4 linked regions of the Homo sapiens genome follow. The protein of the gene in region 1 purifies or fractionates together with the protein of each later gene. This does not show direct contact. Each region holds a gene or a part of one and is shown in the gene's direction. Other genes may lie near its edges.

Region 1 (4,445 bases):
CCACTTCTGCTTCCATCCCTTTTGTGCAGCAGATGTTCTTTGGAGTCTGACAAGTTACAAGGAATTTGCAGTCTTTCAAACATTGTAGAACCTCTGGTAGAGGCTGTAAGTTTCCATTTCTTGTCAGATGGCAAGGAATACCATCTAAACGAAGCATAAACCCATTGCCACATTTGCTCATCCAAATGTATTTACCCTTCTTTCAAAGGGTAGGTTTTCTTTGATCTCTGTATAGAAACATGTATAAAGAGAGAAGATAAAAGTGTATCTCACTAGCTTTAGTTGAGCCATAGGATTTTCTTTGGTGGACTCTTAGAGCCATATAATGTTTCTTCTAAGCCATTGGATTAATTCTCAGTTCTCTTCAGTCCCCTAGGTTAAAGAGCAAGTGTACAGGAGGATTGCAGCCTCCCGTTCAGTACGAAGATGTTCATACCAATCCAGACCAGGACTGCTGCCTACTGCAGGTCACCACCCTCAATTTCATCTTTATTCCGATTGTCATGGGAATGATATTTACTCTGGTAAGTGGGGACTCAGGATGTCATTCTCAGCTCCTTTTTTTTTTTTTTTTTCATTCTGAAAGGAGGTGAACCGCAGCTCTTTTTTTTTTTTTTTTTTTTAAGAGACGTGGTCTCACTCTGTCACTCAGGCTGAAGTGCAGTGATGGAATCATCACTCATTGCAACCTCAAAACTCCTGGGCTTAAGCTATCCTCTTGCTTCAGCCTCCCAAGTAGTTAGGACTACAGGTGTGCACCACCACCCCTAGCTAATTTTTATTTTTTGTTGCAATGGGTGTCTCACAGCGTTGCTGAGGCTTGTCTCAGACTCCTAGCCTCAAGCAGTTCTTCCACGTCGGCCTCTCAAGTGCTGAGATTATAAGTGTGAGCCACTGCATTCAGCTTTTTTATAGATTTTTGCTATATCTGAGGTTTGAAGGATATTTGTAAATTTAACCATGAAGGAAGGTATCTTTTTTCAAAAAAAAAGTTTGAACTCAGTCCTGTATATTAGCAACAGACAGATTTGTGGAGACATTAATTATATCTGAGAGTATTTTACCTTGTTTCCTTCTTTGTAGGAAAGGGAATGTTTTTGCATTTTCATGTGTAGTGATGATTAATGATTGAGAAACATTATCCTATTAGGAAGAATGATGAGATATATACATGGGCACTGTATGTCAGGACCTTGAGGCATGCATATGGGGTTACAAATGGGATATTAAAATACAGGGTGACCAGCTCAGCTCTGTCCTTTGTGTGATATTATCACTGTTCAAGGCTTGGCCAGTAATTAGTAAACAACGTATGTGCCTCTGGCATATTTTTCCAGGTTTTAAAAATTTTTCATTGGCTTGGCAACTGGAGAGTTCATGTAATTTGTCTTCTCTGTATCTTAGGCTTACATTCAGAAATACATGAGGTTCCCCTTCCACAATGAAAGTAGCTTTTTTAAAATGGTAAATGACTTCAAATAATACATAAATATACTGACAAAGTAAAGGTGACTTAGACTTCCACTATCCTGTAACTGCAATTAATCTTTTGGGAACTGTTCTCTTAATGTGTCTGTTAATATGTATGTACTCTCTCTCTCTCAAATAATTTTGTATAATTGAGATTGTGTCATATATACAGTTTTGTTTTGTTTTTTTTGAGATGGAGTCTCGCTCTGTAGTCCATGCTGGAGTGCCGTGGTGCGCAGTCTCGGCTCCCTGCAACCTCTGTCTCCTGGTTTCAAGTGATTCTCCTGCCTCCGCTTCCCAAGTAGCTATCTGGGATTACAGGTGCCTGCCACCACACCCAGCTAATTTTTGTATTTTTGGTAGAAATGGGGTTTGCTCAGGCTGGTCTCAAACTCCTAACCTCAGACAATCTGCCTGCCTTAGCCTCCCAAAGTGCTCATTAGGGAGGCTTTCTTTAGCATAGTTTAAACGTGAAGCTGAGAAGGCCTTATAAAATTCTCCTTAATTTTTTATATCTTTAAAGGTTGGCTGGGCGTGGTGGCTCATGCCTGTAATCCCAGCACTTTGGGAGGCCGAGGTGGGCAGATCACTTGAGGTCAGGAGTTTGAGACCAGCCTGGCCAACATGGCAAAACCCTGTCTCTACTAAAAATACAAAAATTAGCCGGTCATGGTGGTGCACGCCTATATTCCTAGCTACTTGGGAGGCTGAGGCACAAGAATCGTTTGATCCCAGGAGGCGGAGGTTGCAGTGAGCCGAGATCACATCACTGCACTACAGCCTGGGCAACAGAACGAGGTCCTTTCTCAAAAAAAAAAAAAAAAGGTGTTTGTTTTATAATTTAGAGATTAATCTTGTGGCCTAGCCAGTATAAATTAGTCTGGACTATTTCATTTCAGAGTGAGCTCTTGGAAACCAAGGTTGTGTAAGTTGGATACTGAATTTGCTTTTCCATTTCAGTTTACTATCAATGTGAGCACGGACATGCGGCATCATCGAGTGAGACTGGTGTTCCAAGATTCCCCTGTCCATGGTGGTCGGAAACTGCGCAGTGAACAGGGTGTGCAAGTCATCCTGGACCCAGTGCACAGCGTTCGGCTCTTTGACTGGTGGCATCCTCAGTACCCATTCTCCCTGAGAGCGTAGTTACTGCTTCCCATCCCTTGGGGGCAGCCTCGAGTGTAGTCCATTAGTAATCAGATTCCAGTTTGGACAGGGTGGCTGGATTGTATATCTCGTTAGTAATGTACATGCTCTTCAGGTTCTAGGGCTCCTGTTAGGGGAGGGAGAAATGTTGAATCAAGAGGGAAAACAACTACTATGATTTATAAACATATTTTAATGTAAAAATTTGCATTTAAAAGGAGTGGCCCTGTTTTCTGTGTTAAAACCCCATTTGGTGCTATTGAGTTTGTTCTTTATTCTTTTATCCCAGTGAAAATTGTTGATCTTGCTGTAGGGAAAAATTAAACTCTTTGAATCTCCAAACAAGGAAGTTTCAGCATTCCCTTATGGATCAGAGGAACCTTAGAGGCCTGAAATTGTTGCTTCCAGTTTAGCTGCCCCTCAAATTCAAGTGAATATTTTCCCTTCTCCCTTTACCCTTCTCCAGAAATAAAGCAGGTGACAGGGTTTTCAGAATCTTACCATATTGACTTGTGTATCTTTTTTAAAAAATAATTTGTGATATTTATTGCATACATTTTCTTTTGGCAGTTTTGGATTTTAGGTATTTTTTTGCATGAGGCTGATAATGGTGATGATGACTTTATACCCTTGGTACTATACTAGGAACTTTACATAGTATCTCTACTTCTCACAGTCTTGCAAAGTAGGTGATATTATTCCCATTTTATAGTTGAGAAAACGGAATTAGTGACTGTACCTATAACACCAGTAAATGCAGAGCCAAGATTCTGACCCAGGTCTTTTTGTTGTACCATAAGTTTAAAAGATGAGTCTCATTTTTCTTGTGGTAGATGGTGGTAAAAAGGAGTAGGCAGAGTGTACATAGATAAAAAAAAGTAAAAGGGTAAGTAAAAAATTGATTGTGGTATATGTTATTCTAATCAGCCAAAAAAGTTTAGAAGATTGATGAAATGATCTTTTAAATATGTATTTCTGAATAAAATGTAAAACCAAGAAAGTTATTTCAGGAAGGATAGTGACCCTTTCCTTGAACTGTTAGAAGGGCATTTATTAGGCTAAAACGTCATTAACAAAATGCATTGCATGTTGAAACCAGCCTCTTGAACCATAAGCACTTAGCGACTTTGCTCTGCCCTGTACTGTGCTGCTTCTGCTGTCATCCTGTGTGCCTACAGAAGCCTGGTCTTCCGTCCATGCAGAAATGCTTATGTCCTCCTGTTGTTTAGATGACTCCTATTGTTCAGGTGTACTCTGAGAAGAGAATCACGTTTTTCTGTTTTGCTAAGGAGAAAACCTTGCTGCTTGTCTCTCCTCCCACCCTCCACCATCCAAAATTAACCAGTGAGCTGGATATTACCTGGATATTGCCAGGAGGTGGGCATTAAGACAGTATTCTTTAAAAGTGAAAATCTTGTGAGGCAAACTGCTAAATTCACATTTTTGTTTTTTTTTTTTTACCATCTTCCCTAGGAATATTCCTAGAAAGCATCTGCTTAATTTTGCTGCTAACAGCTAACCTTATCCCACGTTGAGGGTGGTATTAAAACTGTTCACACAGAGTGAGCCTGGGTCAGTCAAAAACAGAATTTGGGCATTTGAGTGATAACAGACAACCTAAGGACAATGAGCACTTTGCAGATCTCTACAATTAAAAGTTGCCTCTTTGAGGCAGGAGGGGAGAAGCACAGTCCCTGCCAGGTTGCCTGAACTAAAGATGCCATGGAGCAGGAGTGTCTTGGTGCATTGTTCCCCGCTTAGGAGTACCTTTAAAAAGGGGGTGAAATAAATTTGGCTTAATAATTGTATTCTGACTCAGCTCTGAGTTT
Region 2 (4,445 bases), on another chromosome or scaffold:
CCACTTCGAGGTGGTCCACTACGCAGGCGTGGTAGGTGCTTGCTGGAACCCCAGCCCTCGGCCAGGCTCCTCCCGCCCTGCTCCAGGTCTCCCACCCGGGCTCAGCACCTGACTTGTCTCTCCAGGTGCCTTACAGCATTGTGGGCTGGCTGGAGAAAAACAAGGATCCCCTGAATGAGACCGTGGTCCCCATCTTCCAGAAGTCACAGAATAGGCTCCTGGCGACTCTCTATGAGAATTATGCGGGCTCCTGCTCCAGTGAGTATGGAGGGACAAGATCTCCACTCTGACAGGGGCCCACAGAGCGACATTCCCTGGAGTGACCAGGCCCCTTGTCTCTATTAGCTGAGCCCCCCAAGTCTGGGGTGAAAGAGAAGCGTAAGAAGGCAGCATCGTTCCAGACGGTGTCCCAGCTGCACAAGGTAAGGCCCCATCTGGGAGACAGACCCTCCCTCTTGGCAGCCTCCAGCCCCGTCCTTCACCCCCTGCCCTGTCCCCTGTGCCTTGGGCGGGCGGCTGTTAAGACTTGCAGTGATGTTTAACTCCTCTCCACGTGAACATCACAGCAAGTCTGTGCTGCTTCCCGTCCCTACGCTGCCTGGGCAGGGTTTGTGGGGAAGGGGTGGGAGCCCTGGGGCTCTGGGAGGGACGGGGATTTGGCAGGGAAGTGAAGACTTTGGTGGTGGTGATGGGAGACAGCGAAGGGTCTCCCATCACCAGAATGAGAGTGAAAGAGCAAAAGTGCAGGGCACTTAGGGCCCTGCTCCCGTCTCGGTCCTGACCACTGCGGCATCCAATTCTGGTTCTCTGCCCCCTTTGTGCCTTTCCCTCACTCTTCCCCACTGCCAGGAGAACCTCAACAAGCTGATGACCAACCTGCGGGCCACACAGCCCCACTTCGTCCGCTGCATTGTCCCCAACGAGAACAAAACCCCAGGTAGTCACCCAGGGCTGGCCTGGCTGGGGCCGGGAGGCATCATGGGAAGGTGACAGGGCAGAGGCCGGGAGGCTGAGTACATCTTCCCCCTCACCTCGCAGGGTCTCCACTGCTGCTTTTTCTCTGGGGCCTGCGGGTGTGCCTGTTGACCTCTGACCTTTTCCCCTCTCACGTCCAGGGGTCATGGATGCCTTCTTGGTGCTACACCAGCTGCGCTGCAATGGGGTCCTGGAGGGGATCCGGATCTGCCGCCAAGGGTTCCCCAACAGGTTGCTCTACACCGACTTCCGGCAGCGGTGGGTGACCCCTTCCCCCTGCCTGCTGCTCCAGGTGGAGGCCTGAGGGGCTGGGCAGGACACACATATCAGAGCCCAACAGACGGTCCCCTGTCTGGAGGGGGAAGCAGGGACTGTGAGGGGCCTGGCCAGGTATCCCAGCAAGACATGGGGGTGGCTCAGACCTGGCCGGGGACTTGGGGAGAAGTGAATAGGCTTGGGGCAAATAGTGGAGGTGGAGCCTACAGGCCTCGCTGATAAGCTGGACATGGAATTCTGGATGCAGAAAAGACGAATGATTTCTAGTTTTGGGAGTGAGCAACCTGGGAGCTACCAGTGGTAGATTTACTGAGCTACAAAAACAGGGTTTTTTGATTTGGAGGAGAGGTGAAGGGATACTGGTTTGAGCTCTGTTTTGCGTGTATCAGGTTTGAAATGCCTCCAGCAGACATCCTAGAAAAGTCATGGGGGAGATTGGGATTATCAATCTGGAGCTCAGGGCAGCGGGCAGAAAGGATGCAGATTTGGGAGTTGAACGAGAATCATGTGGACGAGGCTTCATGAGACACCTGGCACATAGCAAGCACCTGGGCAGTGCTGCCAGCTCCTCCCCGTTCCCTCAATGGGCAACAAGCATCCATCGTTCCTTCTCCCTCCAGAAGTCATGGTGTCATCCACACTATCCTTTGTAAACAGAGGTTCACACAGATACCATACACGCACACACACGCATGGTGCTGTGACCTTGTTTTTTCTAACAGTCTGGCCTGGAGATCGTTCCTTATCCCCAGGCGTATGCCTGCCATCGTCATCCGTTTTTCTTGGCTGTGAAACATCTCACAGTCTGGTGGACTGCATGCTTTGTTTAATGAGTCCCCCTCATGAGGGGCCTTCACAGCGTGGCTGTAGCCCACCTGACCCACACAGCCCTGTGCATGTGTCCACTTAGAAGTGGGCAGGCTGGGAGCCCTGGCTCTTTTGCATTAGAATTTCCCCCCAAATGGGCTGGGCGCGGTGGCTAACGCCTGTAATCCCAGCACTTTGGGAGGCCGAGGCAGGCGGATCACGAGGTCAGGAGATCGAGACCATCCTGGCTAACACGGTGAAACCCCATCTCTACTAAAAATATAAAAAAATTAGCCGGGCGTGGTGGCGGGAGCCTGTAGTCCCAGCTACTCGGGAGGCTGAGGCAGGAGAATGGCCTGAACCCGGGAGGCAGAGCTTGCAGTGAGCAGAGATCGTGCCACTGCACTCCAGCCTGGGCGACAGAGCGAGACTCCGTCTCAAAAAAAAAAAAAAAAAAGAATTTTCCCCCAAATGTTTCTTCAGTGATAGGGTACAGCATGTCACCTTCTACTAATATTTTTTGCCTTTAAAAAAATTTTAAAAATAGTGCATGCCTTCTGTAAAAAGCCTCTTTAAAAACTTAATGAATGCATTTAAAATCCCCCCAAGGTTGTGTTTTTTTTTTTTTTTTTGAGACGGAGTCTTGCTCTGTCACCCAGGCTGGAGTGCAGTGGCAGGATCTTGGCTCACTGCAACCTCTGCCTTCTGAGGTTCAAGCGATTCTGCAATTCTTCTGCCTCAGCCTCCCGAGTAGCTGGGATTACAGGCGCCCGCCACCATGCCCCACTAATTTTTGTGTTTTTAGTAGAGATAGGGTTTCACCATGTTGCCCACGCTGGTCTTGAACTCCTGGGCTCAAGCAATCCACCCGCCTTGGCTTCCCAAAGTGTTGTGATTATGGGCGTGAGCCACCGCACCCAGCCAACCCCCCAGGGATTTTAAGTGGAGTGTCCCTAGTGTCCCAGTGTGGTGACGCATCCCTGGCCCCCTTGTTTGGCATGTGCCCTGCTGGAACCTCTGCACCAGCCTCGGAGAGGCCCAGGAACGAGTCCCCTGCTACCCACACGAGCCTCCTCAGTCCCTGACTTCCCCATTCTCAGTGGCCTGTGCCCCATACCCAGCCCTCTCCTGACCAGCTCTGCCCTCCTTTCCCAGGTACCGTATCCTGAACCCCAGTGCCATCCCGGATGACACCTTCATGGACAGCAGGAAGGCCACAGAGAAACTGCTGGGCTCGCTGGACTTGGATCACACCCAGTACCAGTTTGGCCACACCAAGGTCGGGGCACTGTGGGATCAGGGCTGGCCATGGCTGTGGCGGTCACACTGGGCAGGGTTCATGCGGATGGTTGGGGGTTACCCTGGCTGTCTACCTCTCCGCCCCCAGGTGTTCTTCAAGGCTGGGCTTCTAGGCGTCCTGGAAGAGCTCCGTGACCAGCGCCTGGCCAAGGTGCTGACGCTGCTGCAGGCGCGGAGCCGTGGCCGCCTCATGCGCCTTGAGTACCAGCGCCTGCTGGGAGGCAGGTGGGTGTGGGAAGGAGGCTGGGGACAGGGTGTGTCCCCTGCCTCTCAGCTCCCAGACCCACTGGCTCTCCCAACCCTAACATGCTGCCCTGTAGTCAGATCAGCCCCTGTGGCTGGTTGGGGCAAGGTTCTGTTCTGTGTCCCCCAGCCTCCATTTCCCCACCTCAAAAAACGGGGTACGGCACTTGCCTCTCCATTTCAGGACATCAGCGTGTGGCCCGGAGGGGTAGCGATGGCACCCAGTGTCTTCCAAGACTCTTGCGGGCCGGGCCCCAGGCAAGATACTTTCTCTGCATTATCCTGGTTAAAGCGCTGACGGTCCTGAGAAACAGGCGCTGTGATGGCCTCCACTCAGCAGAAGGGTGCCCGTGTCAGAGATCCAGAGCTAGCTGGCACGTCAGCCCAGGCCGCTGACTCCAGAGCCCCGTGGCTTAACAGCCCTGGTGTCTTCCGGGAATTGCAGAGGCCACCAGGACATGGGGGGCTCATGAGCCCCTTCACTGGAGGCAGGCCTGTGGGACTGTGGGCCTCCCCTCACCCTCACCTATAAAGCAGAGCTATTAGGAGCTACTCCATGAGGCTGCTGGGAAGGCAAAACAAGTGAACTGTGCTGAGTGTCACCATTTGTGACGGGCAGCACTGAGCCACCTTCACAGCTTGGCTGCCCCTCCCTAGGGATGCGCTGTTCACCATCCAGTGGAACATCCGTGCCTTCAATGCCGTCAAGAACTGGTCATGGATGAAGCTCTTTTTCAAGATGAAGCCGCTGCTGCGCTCGGCGCAGGCTGAGGAGGAGCTGGCGGCCCTGCGGGCAGAGCTGCGGGGGTTGCGAGGGGCGCTGGCTGCGGCCGAGGCCAAGCGCC
Region 3 (4,445 bases), on another chromosome or scaffold:
GAGGGCTTGAAGGTAATGAGGCAGGTTCTGGGGCCCTGGAGGCTGAGGAGGGCATGGCCTGGCTTTGTGGACAGTTGTGGGGCAGGGATGGGGACAGGTTAGCTGGGGCATCTATAGCCCTCAGTGAGAGGAGATGGTGCAAGGGGTTGAGGATGAGGCCACTGGGCCCCTAGGAGGCTTGGTGGTTAGGAAAAGAGTGAGTCCGGCCGGGCTCCGCACTGTGCCTGGGTGCACAGCAGCTGACGCTGCCGTGAACTTAGCACCCTGGCCCACAGTGTGGCAGGTAGAGATGCCAGTCGGCAGGTTTCAGGGCCCTTTGCCAGCTTGCCCAGACAGTGAAGGGGTGTGGAAGCCAATGTGGCCCCTCAAGGTAGAGCCTCCTCCACAGGCCCAACCTGCTGTCACCTCCTGTGGGGTGATCTGGGCTTGGAGCATCTTCAGACTCCCCATGCGAGCCTGTGAGGTGCAGCCTCCAGGCGCCTGTGCTGCCTACCTGGGGCGCCTCCTGGTACCTTCCATCTTGAACTCGCGGGCTGAAGTGCAGTGGCGCCATCTCGGCTCAGTGCAGTCTCAGCCTCCCAGGTTCAAGCAACTCTTCTGCCTCAGCCTCCCAATATCTGGGAGTACAGGCGTGCACCACCAGACCCAGCAAATTTTTGTATTTTTAGTAGACAGGGGGTTTCACCATGTTAGCCAGGCTGGTCTCAAACCCCTGACCTCAAGTGATCTTCCCGCCTCAGCCTCCCAAAGTGCTAGGATTACAGGTGTGAGCCACCACACCCAGCCATAAAAAAAAAATTTGGCCAGGCGCAGTGGCTCACGCCTGTAATCCCAGCATTTTGGGAGGCCGAGGTGGGCGGATCACGGGGTCAGGAGATCGAGACCATCCTGGCTAACATGGTGAAACCCCATTTCTACTAAAAATACAAAAAATTAGCCAGACATGGTGGCATGCACCTGTAGTCCCAGCTACTCAGGAGGCTGAAACAGGAGAATGGTGTGAACCTGGGAGGCAGAGCTTGCAGTGGGTGACAGAGTGAGACTCTGTCTCAAAAAAAAAAAAAAAAAATTTCACTTTTTAGCAAATCAAATAGAACTATTCTGTAAAAAGAATCATGATCACATGGGATTTGTCCAAAAAATGCAAATTGGCTTGAATTTTTTTTCTTTTGAGGTGGGATCTCACTCTGTTGCCCAGTCTGCAGTGCAGACATGACCTTGGCTCACTGAAGACTTGACCTCCCAGGCTCAAGTGATTCTCCTGCCTCAGCCTCCCGAGTAGCTGGGATTATAGGTGCCCACCACCACACCCAGCTAATTGTTGTATTTTTAGTAGAGATGGGGTTTCACCATGTTGGCCAGGCTGGTCTCGAACTCCTGACCTCAAGTGATCCTCCCACCTCGACCTCCCAAAGTGCTGGGTTTACAGGCTTGAGCCACTGTGCCTGGCCAAAATTTTTAAAATGTAATTTCCATATTAACAGACTAAATTAGAAAAGCTGGGAATGTTTATCTTGGTAGCTGCAGAAAGAGCCTGTGGCAGAACCCAGTATCTGTTCCTGATATGCAGATGTCCTGCACATGCAGGCAGCTTTCTCAGCCCAATCAAAAGCATCTGCAGAAACACCTCCAGCTGCCGTCACCCTCAGTGGTGAGACGCTGATGAGGTTGTCTGTCCTCACTCTGAGCTCAGCATCAGCTTGGGGGTTTCAGTCAGGGCAGTTGAATACAGAAAACAAAACCATATAGATCAGAAAGGAAAAAGGAAAACTCTTTATTCACAAATGGTGTGAACAATCAATTGTGCTTCACTATGGTAATGAGTAGTCAGAGAAGGTTTGAACAGTATGGCACCCCCCAAAATGAACTACTTAGGGATAAATTTGGAAAAAGATATGCAAGTGCTGTCCACGGAGTACTGTAAAATGTTGCTGAGGGAAAGAAAAACCAAACAGAGAGGCTGGGCGCGGGGCCCACACCTGTGATATCAGCACTGTGGGAAGCCGAGGTGGGAGGATCGTCTGAGTCCAGGAGTTTGAGACCAGCCTGGGCAACATAGTGAGACGCCGTCTTTACAAAAAATAAAAAGTTGGACAGATATGTCAGTGTGTGCCTGTAGTCCCAGCTCCTGGGGAGGCTGAGGCAGGAGATTGCTTGAGCTTGGGAGATCAAGCCTGCAGCAAGCCATGATTGCACCACTGCCCTCCAGCCTGGGCAACAGAGTGAGACCCTGTCTCAAAAAACAAGACAAGAAACACACGACCACAGGGGCAAATCTCAAAATAAGTGAGTGAGAGAAGTCAGACAAAAAGAGTGCTTGCTGGATGATCCGTCTATCTAAGATGCTAGAAAGTGCACCCGAGTCTGCAGTGGCAGGACCTGAGGTTGCCTGGGGGTCGGTGGCGGGACCCAGTGGGGGCACAAAGATGCATTTGGAGGTGACTCTTTGACTGTAGTGAAGTTTCACAGTACACGTGTCAATTCATAGATGACGCGCTTTAAACAAATGGGGTTTGGCATATGAGGGCAGACAGTGACTGCGTGCAGCAGCCAGCGCAGCAGTGAACCTGAACCCCGCGGGTCTCTTGTTACCAATGACTGTCCAGTGAGACTCTTGCCCTGGGCTGCCCGTATAATATGAACAGAGCAGCTGGTCACTTGGGAACAGGCCAGTTCTTTCCCTTGGCTCAGGCTTTGTTGTTTGCCCATTTTTATCCCAGGAGGAAGAGATCACGAAGGAGGAAATCGACATCCTCAGCGATGCCTGCTCTAAGCTGCAGGAGCAGAAGAAGTCACTCACCAAGGAGAAGGAGGAGCTGGAGCTGCTGAAGGAGGATGTGCAGGACTACAGCGAGGTGGGTGGGATTTGCTCCCTGGACTCTGAGACTGCAAGAAGAGTAAAATCGCTGTACTGGCCCCAAAAGTATACATAATACTTCCGTCAGATACTTGATAAGCTGGCCAAAGAGTATTTGGAGAGGAAAGCACGTTATAAATAAACCTTATTCAGTAACCTTTCCACAGCCATTCCGGCTGGACCAATCCTCTGTAATGTGGCTGTGTGCCGTTCTGGCCACAGATGTGTGTGCACCTTTTTTTTTTTTTTTTTGTAAGAAGGTCTTGCTCTGTTGCCCAGGCCAGAGTGCAGTGGCACAATTTCAGCTCATTGCAACCTCCACCTCCTGGGTTCAAGCAATTCTTGTGCCTCAGCCTCCCGAGTGGATGAGACTGTAAACATGTGCCACCATGCCCAGCTCAATTTTTTGTATTTTTAGTAGAGACGGGGTTTCACCATGTTGACCAGGCTCATCTCGAACTCCTGGCCCCAGGTGACCGACCTGCCTCGCCCTCTCAAAGTGCTGGGATTACAGGCGTGGCCACCGTGCCTGGCCACATCTTTTAGTTTCTAAACATGGGAAGGTGTCTCATGAAGAGTTTGGTCACTTGACGAGATCTTATTCATGATTACGTGAAAGTGGCTTTTTTCTTTTCTTCCATGGTGGTTTGTTTCCCTTTTTTTGTAAATATTACTTCCTAATAACGATTTTTTTTCTTTCTTTCTTTCTTTTTTTCTTTTTTTGAGACGAAGTCTAGCTCTGTCGCCCAGGCTGGAGTGCAGTGGCGTGATCTCGACTCACTGCAACTTCCGCCTCCTGGGTTCAAATGATTCTTCTGCCTCAGCCTCCTGAGTAGCTGGGACTACAGGCATGTGCCACCATGCCTGGCTAATTTTTTGTATTTTTAGTAGAGACAGGGTTTCACCATGTTGACCAGGCTGGTCTCGAACTCCTGACCTCATGATCCACCCGCCTCAGCCTCCCAAAGTGCTGGGATTACAAACATGAGCCACTGTGCCCGGCCCCTAATACGATTTTTTAAAAACTGTTTTCATAGCTCTGTTGGGAATGATAACTGATTTTTCAATTGGCAAAAATAATTGGCCATTTCTAGATTTATGACAGCCCTCATGCCATGTGGGTTCTCCACTGGATGTGAGGTGCTTATCACCAGCTCAGCCTGTTCCTTCCCTCCCCTCCCCTCGCCTTCCCCATTCTTCCTCATGGTGTTTACTCGTGGGAAAAAAACAACTTGGAATTTAAAAAGACACTTAAGGCTGGGCACTGGTGGCTCAGGCCTGTAATCCCAGCACTTTGGGAGGTCAAGGCAGGAGGATCACTTGAGCTCAGGAGTTTGAGACCGGCCTGGGCAACATGGTGAAACACCATTTCTGCAAAAAATACAAAAATTAGCCAGGCATGATGTTGTGTGCCTGTACTCCCAGCTACTCCAGAGACTGAGGCAGGAGGATTGCTTGGGAGTGGGAGGCTGGGAGTTGGAGGCTGCAGTGAGCTGAGATCATGCCACTTTACTCCAGTCTGGGTGACAGAGCAAGACCCTATCTCAAAAAACAAAGACACTTAATTTCCTTGATTAATTAGTTCACT
Region 4 (3,212 bases), on another chromosome or scaffold:
CAAGTACCTCTAGATAGGGCACATCACCTGTGTAGTATTCTGGTTGAGAATGCATAACCTAATCCACTCATTAAATATCAAACAAACCCCAAATGAGCAATATTTTATTAATAAAAAGCAGATTTAGGGAATTTGTACTTTAAAACGTTAATGTCATAAAAAACAAAAGAAAGGCTAACAAGACATGACAACTGAATGCAATACTTGTCCCTACTTGCCCATTACTGGGCTCCTGTTCTGGAGGAGGGATATGCCACAAAGGATGCTATTGGATTAATTCACAGAATTTGGAATACAGCTAATAAAGTATTGTTTCAATGTTAAACTTACTGACGTTATTAACTGCTGTGGTTATGTAAGAGAATGTGCCTACTAGGAAATACATGTTGAAGTATTTAAGAGTAAAGGGCCAGCACATATGTAACTTCTAAAGTAGTTTAGCGGAGGTGGGGAAATATATATATGCACGCGTGTGAGTGTACGTATATGTATATATATATAGAGAGAGAGAGAATGAGATTTAGAAAATGTAAACAAAGTTACATCTAGGTTTACATATTTTATAATCTATATTTATTTACCTTTTATCTTTCAGGAAAGCAAAATAGATGAGCACCATTTTGTTGCAGTTGCTCTTAGGAAACCCGATGGATCTAGACATCAGGATGTAAGATTTTAGGATTTCTCTTTTTTCTAAATAGCATGAATCAATGTTAAGTTTGCTCTTTATTGATGGAAATAGTCATTTGCCTTATATCAGTTTAGAGAGATTTTTTTAAGATTATAGATATAGTAGTACTCTTTATTAGCAAATATTAAGATCACTAGGGATTTTGTAGAAACATTTTTAAAAAGCAGCTGGGCATGGTGGCTCACACCTGTAATCCCAGCACCTTGGGAGGCTGAGGCAGGCGGATCACCTGAGGTCAGGAGTTCCAGACCAGCCTGACCAACATGGAGAAACCCCATCTCTACTAAAAATACAAAATTAGCCAGGTGTGGTGGCGGGCGCCTGTAATCCCAGCTACTCAGGAGGTCTGAGACAGGAGAATCGCTTGAACCTGGGAGGTGGAGGTTGCAGTGCACCAAGATCGCACCATTGCACTCCAGCCTGGGAAACAAGCGAAACTCCGTCTCAAAAAAAAGAAATGTTACCCGCTTCTTCACATTCGTATACGCTTAAGTATTACAACAAAAAAAAATATGGTAGTACTATCATGCTACTCATATTTCCAATAGACATTCAAGATTATCTTAGTCATCTTAACAGTAGTTTATTTCTTGGTGAATTGGGGTTGTGTTGAATGTAAGAGTACCACGTTGAAGGTTGATGAGTAATGGAATTACCTTGCAAATTGAATCCACTCCTCCTTTTAAAGTAATATCCTGAATTATTCCCAAAGTTACAGTGTCAAACATGTAAGAGACCTTGTGTCATATTGTGGCATAACATCAGTTTCAATTATTCAGCCACAATGTTTTTATACTTTCTTATCCTATTACCTGGTAAGCAAGTGGGGGAAGAACTTAGGGTCAAAGACTCTTAGATTTCATATAATTGTGATTCTGCAGAAGTATTTATTTAAGGAAAACGTATGTTTTAATGAAAACTACATGCATTCCATTATTTTTAGTAAATCAACATGAAAGAATGTAGCATGATCAATATATATGCATCGTTACTTCCACAAAAGTAGCTCAGGCAACACACCAAACCTTTGATAGATTAATCAAAGGATTACGAGTTCTCCATAGATTATCTTCCTTAAAAAGGGATGGCATGTTAAAATTGACACCTGTTATCTGAAGATGTTCTGACCCAGGTTACTCGTCCTTCTGTTTTTAAATCTCAGCTTCACACTCCCTGCAAAAATACCTTTTGTTTTCATAGAGCTTTATAATTGTTGAAACATTTGCATATTCAGTACTTTTCATTTCCCTGGACAGAGCCTGTTTAGGCAACAGTGGCATGTTGGGAAGACTAGAGTACAATTCACAAAATTGGGTTCTAGGCCCACATCTACCATTTAACCTATGTTTTGAGCTTGGACAAATTGTTTGAATTGTTTGCTCTTCCTGAGCCTCAGATTCCCCATCCATAAAATTAAGATAACCGTATCACAACATAGCTATGAGACCAGTCATATAAGTACTGGACCTTGACTTGTTAAAGCGCTATACAAAACCCAAGTACTATTTATACTAGATGTGTAGAATATTAAAGAGGGTCTGCACTGGGTTCAATTGTGAACAAGGGCTCTATCTCAGAGAGTAAGATACAGTTTAAATTTAATATTGAATAAATAATTTCCTAAAGAAGTATACATCTCTGTATAGTTATGGCAGTTTTATCAGACCCACCTTTTAGAGTAGTATTTCACAAAAGTTCACTTTCTCACTCACCTCTATCAAAATAACCTGACTGCTCGTTAAAATTACAGATTTTGATATCCCTTCTAACTGATATGTAGTAAATCACACTTTTTGGATGTGGGGCCCAGTAAATCTACATGTAAAATACCACAGGTTTTTGTTATATAAAAAAGTTCAAGAATCAGGTTTTCTATTTCATTTTTTTTTGATTTGTTGTATTGGCAACACTAATATAAGAAATACAAACAATGTTCTAGGAATCCTATGTTGTCATTTAATACTACTGAAATGTAAGTTGGTCTTACTTATTTTCATGATTATGAAATTGATCATAAGATTAACATGCAATATAACAATAAGGTAATCTGCTTTTGTCTTTTAGGTTCCATCTCAGGATGATTCCAAACCAACCCAGAGGCAATTTACTATTCTCAACTTTAATGATTTAATGTCATCTGCCGTTCCCATGACACCTGAAGATCCTTCATTTTGGGACTGTTTTTGCTTCACAGAAGAAATTCCAATACGAAATGGTACAAAGTCATGATGATTCCCTGAGTAACAAAGGGAAATGAAAACTGTTTGTGATCTTCCGTATTCACTGAAAAATAAATGCTTGTTTAGTATCAAATTTTATTTCACGAAAGTTTTTTTAAAGAACAGAAACTTTTCCAATTAAAAAAAAAAAGCAGACTTCTGGTTCAAGATAGCTCACTGGAATACATGTTTACCTCTTTCTTTCCTAAATTGCATTGAATTGATAGGAAGGATGGCGGAATCTTAAAGTGATACATGCTAACTGTAGAAAAAAATAGAAAATGCACATAAGCAAAAGGAAA

What was found.
Region 2: the proteins of TMEM183A (region 1) and MYH7B purify together in Homo sapiens (affinity purification with mass spectrometry; one large-scale study listed by BioGRID and IntAct). This does not show direct contact.
Region 3: the proteins of TMEM183A (region 1) and LETM1 purify together in Homo sapiens (affinity purification with mass spectrometry; one large-scale study listed by BioGRID and IntAct). This does not show direct contact.
Region 4: the proteins of TMEM183A (region 1) and AASDHPPT purify together in Homo sapiens (affinity purification with mass spectrometry; one large-scale study listed by BioGRID and IntAct). This does not show direct contact.

The regions. Positions count from the first base shown.
Region 1 is NC_000001.11:203,020,425-203,024,869, forward strand, and holds the end of TMEM183A (transmembrane protein 183A), read left to right. Parts: intron 1-368; coding exon 369-524; intron 525-2,430; coding exon 2,431-2,616; 3' UTR 2,617-4,424; downstream 4,425-4,445.
Region 2 is NC_000020.11:34,989,889-34,994,333, forward strand, and holds part of MYH7B (myosin-7B), read left to right. Parts: coding exon 1-31; intron 32-125; coding exon 126-258; intron 259-345; coding exon 346-422; intron 423-487; exon of another isoform or gene 488-609; intron 610-849; coding exon 850-937; intron 938-1,115; coding exon 1,116-1,233; intron 1,234-3,213; coding exon 3,214-3,337; coding exon of another isoform or gene 3,338-3,445; coding exon 3,446-3,582; intron 3,583-4,257; coding exon 4,258-4,445.
Region 3 is NC_000004.12:1,817,748-1,822,192, reverse strand, and holds part of LETM1 (mitochondrial proton/calcium exchanger protein precursor), read left to right. Parts: coding exon 1-12; intron 13-2,720; coding exon 2,721-2,855; intron 2,856-4,445. UniProt on the Homo sapiens protein: Plays an important role in maintenance of mitochondrial morphology and in mediating either calcium or potassium/proton antiport. Mediates proton-dependent calcium efflux from mitochondrion.
Region 4 is NC_000011.10:106,093,988-106,097,199, forward strand, and holds part of AASDHPPT (L-aminoadipate-semialdehyde dehydrogenase-phosphopantetheinyl transferase), read left to right. Parts: intron 1-595; coding exon 596-667; intron 668-2,755; coding exon 2,756-2,920; 3' UTR 2,921-3,212. UniProt on the Homo sapiens protein: Catalyzes the post-translational modification of target proteins by phosphopantetheine.